3 linked regions of the Homo sapiens genome follow. The protein of the gene in region 1 interacts with the protein of each later gene in a pairwise test. Each region holds a gene or a part of one and is shown on either strand. Other genes may lie near its edges.

Region 1 (7,541 bases):
GGTGCTCCTGAGGGGACCCTTAGGGAAGCCCAGGGCCCCTGCGGATGGGAACCTCCCTCCACCAAAGTCTGACCCTGAAGCATGCAGGCCGTTCAGCCGAGGGTGTCCCTGTACTCCTGGGTGGCCAGCTGCTTAGTGTGAATGGTCTCTCTGCATTGCAGGGCCATCGGCCACTCGCCAAAAAGAGAGCTGGTGCATTTGGGTTTTGCTGAGACTCGGAATGCTGGAAGATTCTGCCTGAGCCCAGCAGGCTCTTGGCTTTGCTATCCCTTCCCAATGCCCTTGGCTGTCAGTTCTCTGGAAAGTGGCAGAGAGGAAGGAGCCACAGTGCTGCGTGCCGCCACCAAGGGGAAAGCTCTTCAACCAGGTTCAGAGCCAAGTCGCTGAGAGTTGCTTCTCATCCTTAGCACATTTCCTACCAGGGGCAGGATGAGTTAATTTTCGGGATGGGGATCTAACTGGCTGGCGGTTTAAAGGGCCCTTCTATTTAGCAGCCATGAGGGCTGCTAGAGTTCCTATCTCCCATTGAAGAAGGGGCTTCTTCAAGCAGACAGACCAAACATCATTTCAAAATGAGGACTGCATTTGAAATCTACTGAAGGGGGTGATACCGGGGGCCTGAAGCCTGGGGTTTGAGCTCACTTCTAGGGTGACCAATTCTTCTGTTTGCCTGGGACTGTGGGGTTTCCTACGACAGGATTTTCAGTGCTAAAACTGGAAAAGTCCTGGGCAAATGGAGATGAGCTGCTCACTCTAGTTTGACCCCATTCTTTCTGTGTTCTCACCAACTTTCAGTCTTTCATTTTGCAGATTGAGAGAATCAAGGTACTAATAAAACCTGCTGTCCCCATCTCCCAAACCCGTGGGACTCAAAAGAGCTGACGTCAGTATCCCATGGCACCTTAAGCCTCCCCATCAGGGCACATCCCACTGCTGACACACCTCTGCAGGCCTCTTCTTCCTCTCAGTTTGAGCTTTCTTGGGTGAGACCCCTTTATTCATCTCAGAGCATTCCTGGGCTTGGCTAAGAGCAGAAACTCGGGAAAGCTGTGCTTATAAAGCAAAGCACAAAGCATTCCCACCTGTTGGTTGGTGTCCTTCTTTTCTGTCCTGCCCTGGTTAGCCCCATGGGAAGGTCCTCTACAGGCTCCGACAGACAGGCGTGCCCCTGAGGGCGGCTGTCAGGAGGAAAACAGGGCAGCACGGGCAGGAGGCTTGGTCACTGCTTTGTTCTGAACGAGGCCGGGACAAGGAACCAGACAAAAGGTGGACAGGTATAGTGAGCAACCAGGGAGGGCCTGGTGGGGAGGTGAGGAAGCAGCAGGTCCCCACCCTGGGGAAGAGAAGGGCTTTAGCTGGAATCTTAACAAATAGGCCAATCTCATCCTCCAGCCTCTGGGACTCCAGCACGGACTCCCTTGGCTGCCTGCCTCCCTGACTCTCTCAGAGGCTGCCCATCCCTTGCAGCTCCTTGCGGGGCTGCCTTCCTGGGGGGTCAGCCAGATCTCAGCATGCTGAGTTGTCTGTCCCCTTGGCCTGGACATGGCCCAGCTCCGCAGGGTGATATCTGGTGGGCAGTCTGCCCCAAACCTCAGCCCTCCATCTCCCCCTCACCCCTTGATTCTCCCATCCCAGCCGCAGGCCTGCTTCTCTGCCTCTAGGCTCCTGGACACATAGGGTCTTGGCTTTGGGTGGCCACCCAGGGTCCCAGCTTCAGTCTTAGCTCTCAGAGCCTTAACCTCAGCTGAACTTCCCTGGTAAGCGAGCCCTGTGGCTCTAGGACCACTTGGGGCTGGCCAAAGCATGGTGGGGAGGAGGATGACTCAATGGCAGCCTGATTCAGGAAAGCCCCTCACCAGCCCTCGCCAGTCTGCACCCAGAGGATCCATTTCACGTGTCCTCCAAATCCTGGCTGATCCTGTTTCATTCTCTTGCTGGACACCCTTTCTGGGGCCCAGGAGTGCTGGGACACAGACATGGTCCCCATCACCAGAGAATCCTAGAACTCTCAGTGGAAGAAACCCCAAAGGTAACTGGTCCAGTCTCCTGCATTTGGATGGACTAGACAGAAATTCATGCTCAGAGCACCTAGGCACAGAGAGGGTGAGTAACTTCCCCAGGGTCACACAGTAAAGGAATGATCAGCTGCTCCTGAGCCACCTACCTGAACTCTCCTTTCTCCGCCTGGATGATTTCTTCTCTGTCTCATTGGCAGTGCTCCCAAGCACCCCGTAGTCATCGCCTGGGCCTCCTGTGGTGTCCACCAGGCCCAGGCTGCTGGTCCCCATTTCCTTGGAACCCCCTGCCGGGCCTGAGTTGGGCCTGCGCCGGGCGTCTGAGACAGGGAAGTGCCAGTTGGGGGACTGTGGGAAAGCGGGGTGCTGCTCAGTGAAGATGTGCTCCTCCTGGGGCAGGCTGTGTGGGGTGGCTGCCAGGCAGGAGGCTGAGAAGTCAGGGTACGCTGCCGTCGCTGTCGCCAGGAAGTCTGGTTTCTGGTGGAAGGAGAACGGGGTGGGCGGGTAGTGGGGTAGCCCTGAGGCCCCATTGCCTTCCGAGTGGGGGTTTCGAAGGCAGCCCCAGACAGGGGCTGGGGGCTGGAGGCTCCTCATGCAGCTGCTGGCCGCGGGATCCATCTGCTGTCCGCTGCACGCCTCGGTCCTTTCAAAGATTTGATTCTTTATACTTTTTATGTTCAAATTTTTAAAAATGCAAAAGAAAAAAAACTAAATAGGAGGGAAAAATGTTCAACAGAAAATTTACCCCAGGAACCAAAAAAAAAAAAAAACCCAAAACTAAAGTCTCTCCTTAAAGTACACACACATGTGGCCAGCTACTCCTATGTGTGTGCACACACCTATGTCGGGCTTGCTCCTGCCCCTCCAATGCACCAGCCTACCTACTGGGATCCCCTGTATGTGTATTTGTCGCCAATGACACTAAACATTTTCACTGTCCCAACCCAGACGCACCAGCTGACGAGGAGTTCGTCCTGGAGCCCAGAGCAAATGCCTGCAGAGGGCTGGACCAGGGCTGCTGGGACACACTTTTAAATCCTGCGGTGGGGAGAGAGTGACAAATTTCTGAAGTGAAATGTGAGAGAGGAGAGGGAGGGGTTAACCCACACACACAAGATCCCCTCCAACCAAAACCCTAGCAGGCAACTATTAATCATCAGAAACCTTATATGCACATCTAATGGGATTTGCAGATGGAGACTTTTAAAGAAACATTGTCTGTATTTTTTTTTTAAGGAAAGAGAGCAGCACACACACACATACACACACACCGTCTTTAATGTGCCTCCTGTAACACTATGAAGTTATTTTTATTGCACTGTTAACAAAATTCCCCAAGTCTTGGATTTAGAAAAAGCCTTAAGTCAGATCCAGAATCCATCAAATGCCAAATTCCAGGGAGTGAAGTGAGGAATAAGAGCAAGAGACAAGCTTGGTGATTGCATTTGATTTAAAGGCCCTTCTACTGCTGCCTGCGAAAAAGGAAGGTGGATTAAAAGAAATCTTTTTTGCAAGTCTCAGCGGCCCACTGTGGTCTGCAGTACAAAGAAAGGCACACTCTAGAAAAAAAGAATTTCTCTCTGCCCAGAGTGACATTCTCACTTTCTCAGTAACTTAAAAAAACAATCAGATTCTTCCTTCCGCTCTTTAACCTCCAACATACATGCCAATTAGCCACACTCTTCTCTAGAGAGGTTTCAAGTCATTTTTCTTCACAGCAATGGCAAGGCTCTTAAATAAGGTCCTTGAAGTTTCTTCGGGTCTCCTCCCACCTGCTCCCTGCCCCCTTCACCTCCACCCACCTGCTTCCCTTTCTCATCCCCCAGAGGCGGAGGCTTCCGAGGAATTTGGGGTAGGGAAATAGGAATCAGGGGCTCCTCATTCCCCAAAGGAGCCTCTTTGGCAAGCAGGCACGTGGGTCTCCGGGCTGGTGCACATCACAGGGCAGCCAGCCCAAGTGCCATCTTGATGCCCAGTCTTCCTCATGGCTGCGCCCTGCTGGTCTCTCAGAGGGTTAATGCAATTTCTTGGAGGACGACATTCCTAACACCCAGGGGCCAGAACTCCTTCCCCACTGGTTATTCCCATGGCCCAGAGCAGCAGGATGGGGGCAGAAACAGGCATGGACCTTAACAGCAGCGTCTCTGCTGGCTGCTTCCAAAGACGGCGAGGGTTCCCTGAGGAGGGGCCCCTAGGTCTTAGCTCTGCAGCCTGGAGGTGGGGCCCTGGGGGGTGGGTGCAGGAGATGCTCCTAGGAGGAGCCGAAGGGCACCCAGGGATGTGGAATGAAGCCACGACTGGCCTTTAATCCAGAAACTCCAGTCAGATACACATCCTGGGAGCAGGAGCAGCTGTAAAAGATGGGGAGGGGTGTACATATGAAAAGATGTGCCCTCTTCTGGAACAAGCGGTCAGAGTGTTGTAGACCAGTAGAGTGGATGGGGTCATAGCTGTCAACCAGACTCATCTTTCTGCTTTGCCCAGGGCTTAGCTGTGGCACACACAATTCTCTGAGCCTCACAACTTTCCTAGGATGGGTAAGTAAGAATTATGTCTCCATTTTGCAGATGACAAAACCGAGGCTCAGATGGATGACTGGGCTGCCCAGACTCACACAGCTAAGAAATGGTGGAATCAGCACTTGGCCTCAGGTGTCCTGCTGTTCAGTTTGGAGCAGGCCAGATGCAGAGGAGGAGGCATGGGGTTTGAGGTTAGACGGGTCTGAGTTCAAGCCCCAGGTCTGCCACTTCCTGGCTGTGTGCCCTGGAACAAGTCACCTTATCTCTCTGAACTTCTTTTTTTTTTTTTTCTTTTTGAGATGGAGTCTCGTTCTGTCGCCCAGGCTGGAGTGCAGTGGCATGATCTCAGCTCACTGCAAGCTCCGCCTCCCGGGCTCACGCCATTCTCTTGCCTCAGCCTCCCGAGTAGCTGGGACTACAAGCACCCGCCACCACGCCCGGCTAATTTTTTGTATTTTTTAGTAGAGACGGGGTTTCACCGTGTTAGCCAGGATGGTCTCAATCTCCTGACCTCGTGATCCGCCCGCCTCGGCCTCCCAAAGTGCTGGGATTACAGGCATGAGCCACCATGCCTGGCCATCTCTCTGAACTTCTGTTTCCTCATCTGAGATGACAGTCAGAGTGGGATCTGTGTAAGGCACTTTGCACCTTACACATTTTTACCCCCACGGATTCCCACAAAAGCCTTCTGAGGCAACAGTCATTCTCATCAGCTCCGTTTCTCTCTCTCTCTTTTTTTTTTATCAGCTCCGTTTTTCAGCAGAAGACTCTGATGCACAGATAGACTGTGTAACCTGCACAAGGCCACACAGCAGGGAAGCGGCGGACCCAGGATTCAAATTGAGGCAGCCCAGCCCACAGACATTTGCAAATCTTCAATGAAATCCTTTATGTAGGCCAGGCACGGTGGCTCAGACCTATAATCCCAGCACTTTGGAAGGCTGAGGCAGGCAGATCATTTGAGGCCAGGAGTTCAAGACCAGCCCGGCCAACATGGTAAAACCCCGTCTCTAATAGAAATACAAAAATTAGGCCGGGCGCGGTGGCTCACGCCTGTAATCCCACCACTTTGGGAGGCCGAGGCGGGTGGATCATGCGGTCAGGAGATCGAGACCATCCTGGCTAACACAGTGAAACCCCGTCTCTACTAGAAATACAAAAAAAAAAAAAAAAAGGCGGGCGTGGTGGCGGGCGCCTGTAGTCCCAGCTACTTGGGAGGCTGAAGCAGGAGAATGGTGTGAACCCGGGAAGCAGAGCTTGCAGTGCACCGAGATCACGTCACTGCACTCCAGCCTGGGTGACAGAGCGAGACTCCATCTCAAAAAAAAAAAAAAAAAGAAATACAAAAATTAGCTGGGTGTGGTGGCACATGCCTGTAATCCCAGCTACTCGGGAGGCTGAGGGCAGGAGAATCGCTTGAGCCTGGGAAGCAGAGAGGTTGCGGTAAGCCAAGATTGTACAACTGCACTCCGGCCTGGGCGACAGAGTGAGACACTGTCTCAAAAAAAAAAAAAAAGAAAAAGAAAAAGAAATAAAGAAAGAAATCCTTTATGCAAAAGGCAGAGTAAGTAATGGACAAATGTGGCTCCCTTCCTAGCACATCTATTTCTGGTTAACCTCGATGATCCCAAAGGGTGAACCTGGGAATGGGGAGTTCTGAGGAAATTCTACAGAAACAGCCTTGTGAGGTCCTTTGTGGGGGGCACGCTGTGCTGTGGGGGTTCTGGAAGGAATCCGTGGGAGGCTGGGAGGAAGATCTGGCTTGTCAGCTTCCCTAGGAAAACCTTCCCCTGGGCTGGCCGCAGGCTGTAACCGGATTCCTGCTCCACCTCTGCATCTGGCCCAGGGACCTCATGGCAGGGAGGCCCAGCGCCTGGCCCTTTGCCCCTGGACGGGGTGGGCCCTGGGTCATGGTGGGGTGGGTGGGGAGGTCAGGAGGGCCATGGGGAGGGGGCGCGGTGGGGTGCTTTGCCCTGAGAACACAGGCCTCTGGCACCCCGGAGCCCCCGGCAGCTGCTGGCGTCTGTCAGCCACCTTGCGGGGCGCGGCCGGGGGCTGCTGGCCCCTACATCTTCCTGACAGGCCCCTCTTCTGAGGCCAGGAAAAAACAACAACAGTTCCTCCCCTCACGGCAACCCATTTGTTAGATGAAGGCCGGGCACCAGCACCTTTAACCTCCTCAAAGTCAGCGTTTCCCTGTCAAGGCCCCACAGGGCCAGAGACAGAGATGGATGGAAGGAGCTGTGTGTCGAAAAAGCCCTGTGGCCTCATGAGGAGAGCTCTGTTTTCAGGAAGGGAGGGGACCCCGGTTTCTGATTGTTGGGGAGAATAAGGGGAGGAAGAGGAAAAGTGTGAGTCACGAGGAGGTCCCCCAGGGGCGTGGGGGGGCCCAGGAGGGCTTTCAGCCTGGCCACACCTGAGCCATCACGTGGAACTTGCGGAATGTCTCCCATTGTGCGTGGCAGGCAGGCGTGTACTTGGCAGGACAGGGCTGCTTCTGTTTGTGGCCACCCCACCCCCTTGTGCTTGGAGAGGCAGGGTGTCAGGGCAAGGCCCTGGACCTGGAGGCAGAAGACACGGGTTCAAGGTGTGACCTTGCCTGTTACCGGCTGTGTGGTCTCAGGCAAATCACACCCTTCTCTGAGCTTCATTTTTCTCACTGGCAAAATGGAGTTGACAGTTCCGGCCTCACCTGGCGGTTAGGAGGATAAATGAACTGCATCTGAGAACAGAGCTGGCTGACTATAAAGGGTGATGCATGTGAGGAATAGCTTGTCCTTAACTATGCTGAACCACTGGGCAGGACACAGCACAATGTAGGTGAAGACGGCTCATCCCAGCCCCCAGATACCTTCTATGGCAACATAACACAAGGGTCCAAATCATGGCCTTGGGAATTGGGGGCCTGTGGGTTCAAACCTCAGCTCTGTTTTTTTGTTTTTTGTTTTGAGACGGAGTCTTGCTCTGTTGCCCAGGCTGGAGTGCAGTGGTGGGATCTCGGCTCACC
Region 2 (7,865 bases), on another chromosome or scaffold:
GAGCCACCTCGCCTGGCCAAAATTAATTTTTCTATGTCAGGCTGGGTGTAAATTTTCTATGCCAGGCTGACTCACACCTGGCCTGGTGTGCAATCCAAACACTTTGGGAGGCTGAGGCAAGAGGATCACTTGAGCCCAAAAGTTTGAGAACAGCTTGAGCAACATATTGAGACCTCATCTCTACAAAAAATACAAAAAATGCAGATCACGAGGTCAGGAGATCGAGACCATCCTGGCTAACACGGTGAAACCCCATCTCTGCTAAAAATATAAAAAATTAGCCGGGTGTGGTGGTGGGCGCCTGTAGTCCTAGCTACTCGGGAGGCTGAGGCAGGAGAATGGTGGGAACCTGGGAGGCGGAGCTTGCAGTGAGCAGAGATTGCGCCACTGCACTCCAGCCTGGGCGACAGAGCGAGACTCTGTCTCAAGAAATAAATAAATAAATAAATAAATAAATTAATTAATTAATTAATTAAAATATAAAAGTAAATAAAAAACTGAAAATAGTAACTGCTGGAGAAGATGTGAAATAACTAGAACCTACAAACACTGATGGTGAGAAAGCAAACTAGTGCAGCCTCTTTAGGAAGAAGTTTGGCAAGTTTCTTATATACTGAATATGAGCCATTAATCCTACCCCTCGATATTTACCCAAGTGGAATAAAAAAAAAATACAAAAAATTAGCGAGTGCGGTGGCACCTGCCTGTGGTCCCAGCTACTTAGGAGGGTGAGGTGGGAGGATCAGTTGAGCTCAGAAGGTAGAGACGAGTCTGAACGACATGGTGAGATCCCATCTCTACAAAAATTTAAAAAATTAGCCAGGTGTGGTGGTGTGCACATTTCATGTAAATAGAATCACACTATATGGGACTGTTCATCTCTAGCTTCTTTCACTCAACATAATGTTTTTGTTTTCTTCTTTTCTCTTTTTTGCAAAAGTTACCTTGATCAGCATAATGTTTTTATTTGGGTTGTCTTTCTAGTTTTGAGATGTAAGAGTTCTTAGTTTTTATCGTGGGTTTTGTTTTTTGGTTTTTTTCGAGATAGAGTCTCGCTCTTGTTGCCCAGGCTGGAGTGCAGTGGCACGATCTCAGCTCACTGCAACCTCCCCCTCCCAGGTTCAAGCGATTTTCCTGTCTCAGCCTCCCGAGTAGCTGGGATTACAGGCGCCCACCACCACACCTGGCTAATTTTTTGTATTTTTAGTAGAGACAGGGTTTCACTATGTTGGCCAGGCTGGTCTCTAACTCCTGACCTCAGGTGATCCACCCACCTCATTCTCCCAAAGTGCTGGGATTACAGGCGTGCGCCCGGCCCTGAGAGTTCTTTATATATTCTGAATAGTAGTTCCTTATGAGATATATGATTCACAAATACAGTTAGCCCTTCATATCCAGTTTCCTTATCCATGGATTCAATAAACCACGGAGTGAAAATACCTGGAACCAATAAAATAAAAATAATACAACAATAAAAAGAATACAAATAAAAATGTGTAACAATTATTTATGTAGCATTTATATTTCATTAGATATTATACATAATTTAGAGATAATTTAAAGTCTATGGAGGGCCGGGCATGGTGGCCCATGTAATCCCAGCATTTTGAGAGGCCAAGGTGGGCCGGATCACTTGAGGTCAGGAGTTTGTGACCAGCCTGGCCAACATGGCAAAACCCCGTCTCTACTAAAAATATAAAAATTAGCTGGACACAGTGGTGTGCACCTGTAATCCCAGCTACTAGGGAGGCTGAGGCAGGAGAATTGCTTGAACCTAGGAGGCAGAGGTTGCAGTGGGCTGAGATTACGCCACTGCACTCCAGCCTGGGTGACAGAGCCAGACTCCAACTCGAAAAAGTAAAATAAAAATAAATAAATAAATAAATAAAGTGTATGGAAGATGTGCACAGGCTATATGCAAATATTATGCCATTTTATATAAATGACTTGAGCACTGAGCATTTGTCCCATTCTGTGGGCATGACAGGTTTTTGTGTGAACCTAGTTTAAATTTTTTTTTTACACTATACTTTATTTTTTTAGAGCAGTCTTAGTTTCACAGCAAAATTGATCAGAAGGTACAGAGATTTCCCGTACACCTGCTGCTTTCATACTTGTATAGCTTCCCCTACAATCAACATCCTCCACATGCAAGTGCATGACAGTAGCTAGTCTGTTACAATTGATGAACTGACACTGATACATCATTATCACCCACAGTGGTTAGTGGATAGTTTACATTAGGGGTCACTCTCAGTTGAACATAGGTTTTTATTTCCCTTGGGTAAACACCCAGGAGTCTTTTTTTTTTTTTTTTTTTGAGACAGGATCTCACTCTGTCTCCCAGGCTGGAGTGCAGTACAGTGGAGTGATCATAGCTCACTTCATCCTCGACCTCCCTACCTCAAGCAAACCTCCCAAGTAGCTGGATACCACCAAACCTGGCTAATTTTTGTATTTTTGTAGAGATGGGGCTTCACCATGTTGCCTAGGCTGGTCTCCAACTCCTGGGCTAAAGTGGTCCTCTTGCCTTGGCCTCCCAAAGTGCTGGGATTACAGGCATGAGCCACCATACCAGGCCCTGAATCTTGTGGTAAGGTTAAGTTTAATTCTATTTAAAAAAAACCCAGCCAACCTATTTTCCAGAGTGTCTATACCATTTTGCATCAACACCAGCAATGTATGAGCATTCCAGTTGCTCCATACCCTCACCAACACTTGATATTGTTTATTTTTTGAAAGTTATTCTTGGATGGCTGGGCATGGTGGTTCATGCCTGTAATCCCAGCACTTTGGGAGGCTAAGGTGGGTAGATCACTTGAGGCCAGGTGTTCAAGACCAGCCTGGGCAACATAGACAGACCCTGTCTCCACAAAAAATACAAAAAAAAAAAAATTAGCCGGATGTGGCAGCATGTGCCTCTAGTGCCAGCTACCTGGGAGGCTGAGGAAGGAGGGTCGCTGCAGTGAGCCATGATTGTATCACTGCTCTCCAGCCTGGGTGACAGAGTGAGACCCTGTCTCAAAAAAAAAAAAAAGTCATCCTTGAGGCATCTTTCAAGCCTGATCAGGGTCACATTTTACAAGATGACTGCACAGATTTGGCAGAGGATGCTTGATGAGGCCGAGGCAGGAAAGCCTGCTGGGAAACATTGCAATAGTCCAGGCCAGGTAGAGAAAACACAGGTGAGACCCAAAGTGAGAAGGGCATGGAGGGCCAGGCTAAGAAATTTAGACTCTCAGATTCTCCACCCAAGAGGATTCTGGGCCTTAATAAAGTTGGTAGCTGCTACATTAGATCTGCCCTTTGGGCCGGGCGAGGTGGCTCACACATGTAATTCCAGCACTTTGGGAGGCCGAGGCGGGTGGATCACCTGAGGTCAGGAGTTCGAGACCAGCCTGGCCAACATAGTGAAACTCTGTCTCTACTAAAAATACAAAACTTAGCCAGGCGTGGTGGTGGGCGCCTGTAATAATCCCAGCTACTCGGGAGGCTGAGGCAGGAGAATGGCCTGAACTCGGGAGGTGGAGCTTGCAGTGAGCCGAGATCACGCCACTGCACCCTAGACTGGGTGACAGAGCGAGACTCCGTCTCAAAAAAAAAAAATACAAAAAAAATTAGCTTGGCATGGTGGACACCTGTGGTCCCAGCTACCTGGGATGCTGAGGCAGGAGAATCACTTGAACCTGGGAGGCAGAGATTGCAGTGAACCGAGATCACACCACTGCACTCCAGCCTGGGCAACAGAGTGAGACTGTCTCAAAAAAATAAAATGTAATAAAATAATAATGTCAATGCACACCCCAGAACTTCATCTAGCTTGTTCACCATTATGTTCCCAATGCAGTGATGCAATCATGGCTCACTGCAGCCTCAAACTCCTGGGCTCAAGCAATCCTCCCACCTCAGCCTCCTGAGTAGCTGGGACCACAGGCATGCACCACCACATCCAGCTAATTTTTGTATTTTTAGTAGAGATAGGGCCTTGCCATGCTGCCCAAGCTGATCTTGAACTCCTGGCCTCAAGTGAATCTCATGCTTTGTCCTCCTAAAGTGCTGGGATTACAGGTATGAGCCACCTCGCCCAGCCAAAACCTTTTTTTTTTTTTTGGAGATGGAGTCTTACTCTGTCACCCAGTCTGGAGTGCAATGGCGGGATCTCGGCTCACTGCAACCTCCACCTCCTGGGTTCAAGCAATTCTCCTGCCTCAGTCTCTGGAGTAGCTGGGATTACAGGCATGTGTCACAATGCCAAGCTAATTTTTGTATTTTTAGTAGAGATGGGGTTTTGCCGTGTTGGCCAGGCTGGTCTTGAACTCCTGACCTCAGGTGATCCGCCTGCCTGGCCCTCCCAAAGTGCTGGGATTACAGGTGTGAGCCACCTTGCCCAGTCAAAACCTTTTTTTTTTTTTTTTAAATCTCAGATCCTGAGAATGACCCTATGAGGTAGGTATAATGTAATTTTCATCTCATGAATGAGGTTCAGAGAAGTCAGGTGACTTGCCCAGGGCCACACAGCTAGTGGGCAGAGAGCTGGGATTTGAGCTGCAGTGTGCCCATAGCCCTTCTGTATACCCTGCCTGTCTCTTGAGTGTGCCCCATAACCCCAGCCTCACCTTGTGGTGGCAGATGTGGCCTCCCCACTGAGGTCTTCTCTGTGACATCCCACAGCCCTTATCCTTACCCATGGACACATTCAGGCTGTTGTCCAGAGAGCCTGGCTGTAATTTGAGTCTCATCAAGCAGGGGGTGATGGCGTAGGTGGGTGGGTGACAGCCAGGGCAGGGAGATTTGCCCAGACACTGGTACACAACAGCCTGGCAACCCGTGTGGCCCCGAGGAAGCTGGGAGCCTTTGGGGTGCATCCCCAAGTCTGGGCTGTGGTTCACACCATGGGCAACAAGCAGACAGTCTTCACACACGAGCAGCTGGAAGCGTATCAGGTAGAGGGGGGCAGGATGGGTCCTCAGTGGGTTTGACAACTTTGGTTCCGTGGTCTGGGAAATGGGAACAGAATGCCTTCATCTGGGTGTACCGTCCGCCTGGGTTCCTGGTTCTGCTCTGTGTGTGGCAGCATCAGGCCATCTGTGTGAGTGTGGGGTGGAGGGAGGAGGCCGTGGGAGGAGGCCCCAGAGGCAGGGTTCGGGTTAAGACAACACCTCTCTCCACAGGACTGCACATTTTTCACAAGGAAGGAGATCATGAGGTCAGTCCAGGGAGGAAGGGAGAGAAGATCTGGAAAAACAACTTTCTATTCATTGCTGGAGGATATTTGCAATTTGGTGTGTGTGTGTGTGTGTGTGTGTGTGTGTGTGTGTGTGTGTGTAAGTAGTCTTTCTTTCTTTCTTTCTCTTTTCTCTCTCTCTCTCCCTCCCTCCCTCCCTTCCTTCCTTCCTTCCTTCTTTTCTTTTTTTTTGAGACAGGGTCTGTCTCTATTGCCTGGGCTGGAGTGCAGTGGTGCAATCATGGCTCATTGCAGGCTCGATCTCCCAAGGTCAGGTGATCCTCCCACCTCAGCCTCTCGAGTAGCTAGGACCACTGGTGCGAGCCACCACATGTACCTCATTTTTGTATTTTTTTATAGAGATGGGGCTCTCACTATGTTGCCCAGGCTGGTCTTAAACCCTTGGGCTCAAGCGATCCCCCTGCCTCAGCCTCCCAAAGTGCTGGGATTACAGGTGTGAGCCACCATGCCCAACTGGTATTTCCAATTTGTTGGGACTCAAATGGGGAAGGGGGGCAGGTGTGGTCAGTGGACAGAGGCAGAGATGGAGAAGCTGACAAGTCACATCTTGTCATACTGTCCCAGTCTCTAGGCTGATGAGCTTGGGCTTTCTCCCAAGGGTGGCAGGGAGCTATGGAGCATGCATGAGCAGGGGAGAGACCATCAGCACGTTAGAAAGATTCTCCTGAGGCTGGGCGCGGTGGCTCATGCCTGTAATCCCAGCACTTTGGGAGGACAAGGTGGGTGGATCACCTGAGGTCAGGAGTTTAAGATCAGCCTGGCCAACATGGTGAAACCCCATCTCTGCTAATAATACAAAAATCAGCTGGGCGAGGTGGTGGGTGCCTGTAATCCCAGCTACTCAAGAGGCTGAGGCAGGAGAATTGCTTGAACCTGGGAGGTGGAGGTTGCAGTGAGCCGAGATCACGCCACTGTGCTCCAGCCTGGGTGACAGAGCTAGACTCTGCCTCAGAAAAACAAAATGAAAGATAAAGATTCTCCTGAGACTGGGACTTGAGGCTGGGAGCCCAGGTGCAAAGTCCAGAGCCCAGTCTGGGTTGTGGGCTTGGCATTAAGATGAGGGTGTGAGGAGGTGGCCCAAGGCTGCTGCAGGTCCCTGGCGTGACCCAGCACGATGGGCACAGATGAGTATCCCACATCATCACTCGGCCTGTGGGGCCATTGCCCAGGGGCCCCGACCCATGAACTTGGAGCTATGAAACCCAAGCTGGCCAGGGTTCAGCTGCAGTGTGATCGGGGCCAAGGCCCCAGTTGTGTAGTAACAGGACATCCATTATTGATGGCCACACCTTTTACTAGTGAGCCCCATTGTTTGGGTGAGGACAGCTTGCAGGGTCACCTCGGCCATCACGATCAAATTACTGATGGGGAAACTGAGGCTCAGACAGGGCGGGGCTGATCCCAGGCTGAAGGGTAAATGCACAGAGCCCCAAGGCCCCAAGGACAGACATTTTGTCTGTCCCAAGCTTCTTGCTTATCAGATAGAATAACCAAGGCACAGAGAGGGAGAGGAGAGGAACATGCTCAGAGCCACACAGAAACCTAAACCCAGGGTATTCCCTGATGGGACCCCGACAGGGAACTGAGTGGTCAGGATGAAAGTTCTAGGTCTCCCCACCCCACCTTCATTGAGTTCCTAGTCATCATATGACCTAGGGACTCATGTCTCTCTCAGAGACAGTCCCTAGCAGCTTGGGGACCTCAGACCCACCAAGGATGGTCTCTGCAAGGCTGCTGCTCAGCATGCCCTAATGAAGGTATGGTGTCACAGGTGAGGGCTTCTGAGTGGAGAACTGGCCTTATAATCTGGATAGTGTGTGTGGTATTCAGTTATTTGCAAAATATCTTTTGTCTGCCCTTTAGAAAAAATGTGACTATTAGCTGTTTGTCTCTGCTCTGCCCCATTGAGGAATCCCTCCTTTTTTTTCTTTCTTTCTTCTTTTCTTTCTTTCTTTTTTATTTTTTATTTATTTATTTTTTTTATTGAGACCGAGTCTCATTCTGTTGCCCAGGCTGGAGTGCACTGGCTTGATCTCGGTTCACTGCATGCTGCGCCTCCCGGGTTCACACCATTGTCCTGCCTCAGCCTCCGGAGTAGCTGGGACTACAGGCGCCCACCACCACGCCTGGCTAAATTTTTATATTTTTAGTGGAGACGGGGTTTCACCATGTTAGCCAGGATGGTCTTGATCTCCTGTCCTCGTGATCCACCTGCCTCGGCCTCTCAAAGTGCTGGAATTACAGGCGTGAGCCACCGCGCCCGGCCTCTTTCTTTCTTTTTTCTTTTCTTTTTTTTTTTTGAGACAGAGTCTCGTTCTTGTTGCCCAGGCTGGAGTGCAGTGACACGATCTCAGCTCACTGCAACCTCCAGCTCCCAGGTTCAAGTGATTCTCCTGCCTCGGCCTCCCGAGTAGTTGGGATTACAGGTGCCCGTCACCACGCCCAGCTAATTTTTTGTATTTTCAGTAGAGATGGGGTTTCACCATGTTGGCCAGGCTAGTCTCGAACTCCTGACCTCTGGTGATCCACCCGCCTCGGCCTCCCAAAGTACTGGGATTACAGGCATGAGCCGCTGCATCCGGCCTCTTCCTCCCATTATAAGGAGAGGAAGGGAAGGTAT
Region 3 (5,806 bases), on another chromosome or scaffold:
TGTATCTATAGAGGGAGGATTGCTACCCACTAAGCCTCCTCCTAGAAGCAACTTTAGCTCATCATCAATCCTCAGACTGGCTCAGCAGCTACACTAAGGTGTTAAAGCACAAGGATACTATGGAAAGGCAGATGACTAGAGAGGAAAATCTCCAATTCAGAATTCTATAACTGCTTCACAGTATAATTCTGTAGTGCCTTACTATATAATTGATCATCTAAACTGAGACACACTGGGAAAACTTAAAGAGGGTACTATTAATAATTATGCTGGGACAACAGACATAAACCAGGATGGTTCCAGCCAGACTCTTCAGGAAGGCTGGGACCACATAACCTTTTGTCTGCTTTTGCCCTGATTCTTAAAAGCCATACTCTGTGTCCTTCCTATGTAGCACATGCAAGAGGTCTCCTGGGAACCTCTTTCTCTACCTTTTCCTTGTCTCACCTGACTACCCAGATGTCCCCACAACCCTTGTACCTCCCCTTCTTGCCCAACAATGACAGACCATATTGAAGCCAAATTGGAGAGAGATGTATTTATACCAGTGGGGCTAAGGAGGAAGCAGTCCAGTGGGGGACTTTGAGTGCTGTGCAGTGTTCTCTTAAGAGTCGTAGTACAGTCCTGGGGTCAAGTCTCTTTCCCTAATCTTTGCTGGGGAAGCCTTGAGCCTTGATTTATCCTTCCCTTGGCTTTGGGCTTTGAGGAAGTTGGGGATGGAGGGGATGATGCTTCTTTAGGTTTCTCTATTCCAAGCCCCTCTGAATTTCTAGTTGCAACCTGCCTTCACACAGAGTTGATGGGAAAGATTAGTTGTAGATGTCGGTATGGGATTGAGCCTACAGCAAGAGGAAGAAGGGAACTCCAGTATAGAGTACACAAAGGAAAAGGGCAGGAAAGATACCAAAGGCTTATGAAAACAAAGGAAGGGAAGAAAAGAGAAAAAAGGTGGAAAATCAGGTCCCAGATTGCTTGTTAGGAAGAATGAGGTAATTTTGTGCCTAGGAATGCACAATCCAAAGCTTGATTTTCACCACCTCCATTTGTTCTCTCGAGCATCCTTCCAGATGTTTCTCCCCGTCTAAAGCCAGCACACCAACCCTTCCCGTGAAATGCCCACCTCAGGACTCATCCCCCTCCAGGCCTTCCTGGATGCAGATATACACAAAGATGGAAGCTGGGCGGAGGCTGATGCCATCTTTGGACAGCAGGTGAATGTGGCGGTAACCTGGAAGGGGCAGGAGGACAGCATTAGGAAGGCAGCCAGAGCTGGGGTATTGGCCAGGGGCCAAAGGGGCTGGCTCACCTTGTTGCATGCAGGTCCAAGGCAGGGTGTACTGACCAATAAAGTCATTTCGGGATTTCCAGTCATAATCCATTACCACAAAACGCAGCATGGCAAGTTCAGGCACCAGCACCCGGAAACATAGTGTCTGCCCCCAGTATGGATTAAAACCTGAGTTGGTGGACAGAAAGAAATAAGAAGACATTATGACAGTTTTCTTGACTGGGTTGCTTTTCTTGTGTTCTCATTTAATCTAGATGGCAATCAGCATTTTACAGGTAAGGAAAAAGGCTCAGAGTAAGCAAGTAATTTGCCCAGGTCACTGGAGCTTTTAAGTGAAGAGCCAGGATTCTTTGTACTGTTCCACACTGCCTCCCATGTGGGGACATGCAATAACAGATGCTATACTTAATGGAAGACAGACTAGAAGGAAAACTAATCATGCTCCTACCCCCACCTCCCCAGCACTGCCAGTTTCTCACCATTGTTCTCCACATAGTTGGTCTCCTGCCGTGCTGTGTCTAGACGAACGCCAAAGATCTGCACTTTCACCAGTGGATCCACAATGGACCCCTCTTTGGTCTTGTCCACTTTGGGGAGTTGCTGACCGCTGATCACCTGTAGTCAGGGCTCTGGAATCTCACAAGTTCCTGCTCAGCCCAGCCCCACCCGACCCTACTCCCAACCCCAGGGGAGAAGAAGCTTTTTGGTTTGTAAAACATCCTCCATGGGTAATATATTTTCTTCTAGTATTCTATCTGCAATTTAAAATGCACCCAAAGGCCGGGCACGGTGGCTCACACCTGTAATCCCAACACTTCAGGAGGCCGAGGTGGGCAGATCACTTGAAACCAGGAGACCAGCCTGGCCAACATGGTGAAACCCTATCTCTACTAAAAATACAAAAATTAGCCAGGCATGGTGGCGGGCGCCTGTAGTCCCAGCTACTCGGAAGGCTCAGATGGGAGAATCACTTGAACCCAGGAGGCGGAGGTTGCAGTGAGCCAAGATCATGCCACTGCACTCCAGCCTGCAGCAGAGCAAGACTCTGTCTCAGAATAAACAAATAAATTAAATGGATCCAGGTAGAAATTCAACAGTTTGAAAGTAGGCATGCTAATGACAGCAGCCACTTTTTTTTTTTCAAAGAGACACGATCATACTCTTGACCAAGCTGGAATGCAGTGGGGCAGTCATAGCTCACTGCAACCTCCATCTCCTGGGCTAAAGTGACCCTCCAGCCTTAGCCTCCTGAGTAGCCAGGACTATCTATAGTCATGTGCCACCATGCCAGGCTAATTTTTAAATTTTTTGTAGAGACGGGAGTCTCTACAAAATTTTTAAATTTTTTGTTGAGACCAGTTTCAGACTGGTCTCAAACTCCTGGGCTCAAGCAGTCCTCCTGCCTTGGCCTCCAAAGCGCTGGGATTACAGGTGTAAGCTATCGCTCCCAGCCAGCCTCTTTTATAGCACTTCCTGTGTGCCAGGAATTGTAAGAACTTTATATTAACTGTTATACTCCTTATAACCCTGTGAGGCAGGTGGTAGTGTTACCCCTATTTTGCAGGTGAGCAGACTGAGGTATGGAGAGGTTAAGGAACTTGCCCAACATTACCCAATTAGGAAGTTGTGGTTTGAAGCTAGGCAGCTGGCTCCAAAAGCTAAAACTAGACACTGTTAATAGGCTATCCGGCCTCTACATTCCGGTCAGGCCTAGCCACCTCTTCCCTCACTTCTATCCCAGTTATCTCAGTTTCTTCCCAACAGTTTATTTCCACTGTACCTGGATTAAGAGAGTCTGGGCTTTGAAAGGGCTGATGGGCTTCTCAGGGTGGAAAGAACTCTGGATATCACGCAGGAAGTCTGGCTTCAGCACATAGCCACAGCCGCCATTCTGGCGGAAATGCCCATCACAGATGTCCATTTCAAGCCCTGCAGTCTGCATATTCATGGCCACTGAGGGCCCCAGGAGAAAAGAAGAGCAAGATTCACCATGGAGGCCTTCCAGCCCCTCTTTCAGGGAGTTAAGAAGATAGGTACTGGGTGCACGGTACCTGCTGGTAATATCCACTGATAGCATTTCTCAGCCTAGCAATTTTCTTGAGCATTCCCCAACCCTACCATCACTAGAGAACTTATTTCCCACCTGCTGCTCCTCCACTCCCTCTTCCCAGTCCCTGCTGCCTCCTCACCCATCTGGCAGCCTGCATTCCAGAGTTCCTGGGGGTTGTAGTTGGAAGAGTCTGTCCTCAGGCCGCTGGGATACACACGGCTTAACTGCCAAGTATTGTGCTGCACAAACTCATTGCCTGTAAAAGGGTATAGAGAGGGAGATGGAAGTGGGGTGGAATCTCCCACTTCCCTAGTCCCAAGGACCATGCCTACTCTTCACCCTTCTCTCCAGCATCTGAAGCTGGCTCCAGAAAGTTTCACTGTGCCTCTCTACTCTGTCCATCCAGACCAGCTTTCCTGCCCCTAGACCCTTGAGCCACTATTCATAACTCCTCTGCCCTTGTCTGCTCTAAGGAGTTTCTGAACTCCTTCATCTCTCCTTAGCTACCTTGTCTTTTTTCTTGGGACTTACCTGCCAGTCCATCAGGCCTGAACCTATCCATCCCACTTCCCTCCCCATCCCTCCATTTTGGTCCTGACCAGCCTCCTTGATGAGGCGCTTGGCCTTGGTTTCAGAGAAAGATGATATCTCGTAGAAGTGGTAGTGCTCCTTTGAATGTGTGAAGCTGCGGAATGAGACAGACTTCAAGTAGATAACCAGGGAAGAGAGGGCTGGACACAAGATGGGCTTGGATTTCTGGAGAAGGTGGAAAAGAAGATGGAATTGAACCCTCAGCAGTCTGAGAGAGAAGAAGATAATGGCCATCCAACCTAAACCTCTGCCCACTGCCTCCCCACTGTATTCTCCCTCCTGCCTCACCTGCCGGGACAAGAGAAGGGACTCAGGCTTGGAAATAGGAGCCTGGGCCACAATCTGACAACAGATAGACGGACAAAACAGCGGGCACGTCACAACCTGGGGGTGGGAATGGGAATAAAGGCGGTCTGCATGTACTGCTGGGATCAGTGTCAACCTCTGGGCTTGTGTTTGCTCTATGTTATATCCTGGGTGACAGGTTTTAAATTTATTATTATATTTAAACAGAGAGGCATTATCCTCCCTCCCTCTCATTTAAAACAAAGGAACAATAACCTTTGGTCAAAATGTACATGAATCCAGACAGATATGTCAAGGTATGCAAATGGTCATGTAAGTCACACCTGGAAGGATGTGAGAGTCCCAGAGTAATATCTTTGGATTTGTCTCCTGAATTCCCATTTCCATCCCTGGACATGGCAGCAGGTTAGACACCACAGCCCCAGAAAGCACAGGATAAGCTAGGAGTCAGTCAGCTGAGTGAGCCACGCAAGTACACAAGAGAAAGGCAGACTTCAAACCAGGATCTTGGAGGCCCCACCAATGGCATCCCTTCTCCCTCTGCCTCCCTTCCCCATAGGGAGATGGACCACTCTAGCACAGCCTTCTCAGAGCCTTCACGTTCCCCACCTCAAAATGCTCTCCTTCCTGCTCCTCTGGCTACTGCTGGCCCTTCCTAAAACTCATCCTTTCCAAAAAGCTTTCTCTATGCCCACTTTGGTTGAGATCACAACAATCATTCCAGTAACCCCTACTTACCCAATATAATAATGTTACACATACAAACACACACCCGCTCATCACTGGTTTTCAAGCTGGCCTTTAAGAAGACCAAGAAGTACAAAAATGTCTCAGGAGTCACTAGGGCACCCAGGAGAGAGCCAAATGGGTGCTTCAACTAGGATGGTTCTGCGTTTATCTATTTTGCGTAAGATTTCATTTTAAAAAAAAAGATGTGGCCCAAAGAAGTTGGAAAGCCACTGCAACATACCTACATATGGCAGTATATAATATATATTGATGCCATGTATGCGGTCTTAAATCTCCTTCATTGGGAGGAAGGGTCATTGCTCCTTGGCCCTGCATCTTGCACGGCTCTAGTCTTCATGAACAGGCCTTCAGCTTGCATAAGTTGACTAAATACCACAGCAGAAAGACCACTCCTGGCTTACCTTCTTTTTGTCCTTATTCTGAAGGTTCTGCTCCTGGGGCTCAGGCTCAGTCTCAAACTGGGACTCCAGCGCCAATTCTGACTCTTCCAACTCAGGTTCTGCTTCCTCTTCCTCATATTCCAGGTCTTCCTCAAGTGTTAACTTCTTCCCCTTCACCAGGATCTTCCTCCGAAGCTCCTAGGGGACAAAAATGAAGGGGCCTGTCTACCTGTCTGCTCTTGGGTCCTTCTGGGAATCATGCCAGTCTCATTGTTCTCAAAGGCAGAGGAAGTGAGTGAGTGGTCGGAAGTTCCCGAGGGAAGAGATTAGCTGCTTGATACATACAATTGGAATTCCCATATTGTTAAGCAAACTTTTAATATCTCTATCCATATGGAAAATAATATATATGGTCTCCTGCCACACATTTGACACAGTAAA

The links. Proteins that work in one complex are often made in the same cells at the same time.
Region 2: the proteins of MEOX1 (region 1) and CIB3 interact in binary tests that used the Homo sapiens proteins (3 or more experiments, as listed by UniProt).
Region 3: the proteins of MEOX1 (region 1) and PLCD4 interact in binary tests that used the Homo sapiens proteins (3 or more experiments, as listed by UniProt).

What each region holds. Positions count from the first base shown.
Region 1 is NC_000017.11:43,658,902-43,666,442, forward strand, and holds the start of MEOX1 (homeobox protein MOX-1), read right to left. Parts: upstream 3,022-7,541; 5' UTR 2,634-3,021; coding exon 2,165-2,633; intron 1-2,164. UniProt on the Homo sapiens protein: Mesodermal transcription factor that plays a key role in somitogenesis and is specifically required for sclerotome development. Required for maintenance of the sclerotome polarity and formation of the cranio-cervical joints.
Region 2 is NC_000019.10:16,170,503-16,178,367, reverse strand, and holds the start of CIB3 (calcium and integrin-binding family member 3), read left to right. Parts: upstream 1-4,842; 5' UTR 4,843-4,892; coding exon 4,893-4,943; intron 4,944-5,171; coding exon 5,172-5,206; intron 5,207-7,865. UniProt on the Homo sapiens protein: Acts a an auxiliary subunit of the sensory mechanoelectrical transduction (MET) channel in hair cells. Plays a role in regulating hair cell MET channel localization and function.
Region 3 is NC_000002.12:218,631,893-218,637,698, reverse strand, and holds the end of PLCD4 (1-phosphatidylinositol 4,5-bisphosphate phosphodiesterase delta-4), read right to left. Parts: intron 5,564-5,806; coding exon 5,387-5,563; intron 4,371-5,386; exon of another isoform or gene 4,314-4,370; coding exon of another isoform or gene 4,095-4,313; coding exon 3,938-4,094; exon of another isoform or gene 3,595-3,937; coding exon 3,478-3,594; exon of another isoform or gene 3,242-3,477; coding exon 3,069-3,241; exon of another isoform or gene 1,904-3,068; coding exon 1,768-1,903; exon of another isoform or gene 1,457-1,767; coding exon 1,307-1,456; coding exon of another isoform or gene 1,229-1,306; coding exon 1,122-1,228; 3' UTR 524-1,121; downstream 1-523. UniProt on the Homo sapiens protein: Hydrolyzes the phosphatidylinositol 4,5-bisphosphate (PIP2) to generate 2 second messenger molecules diacylglycerol (DAG) and inositol 1,4,5-trisphosphate (IP3).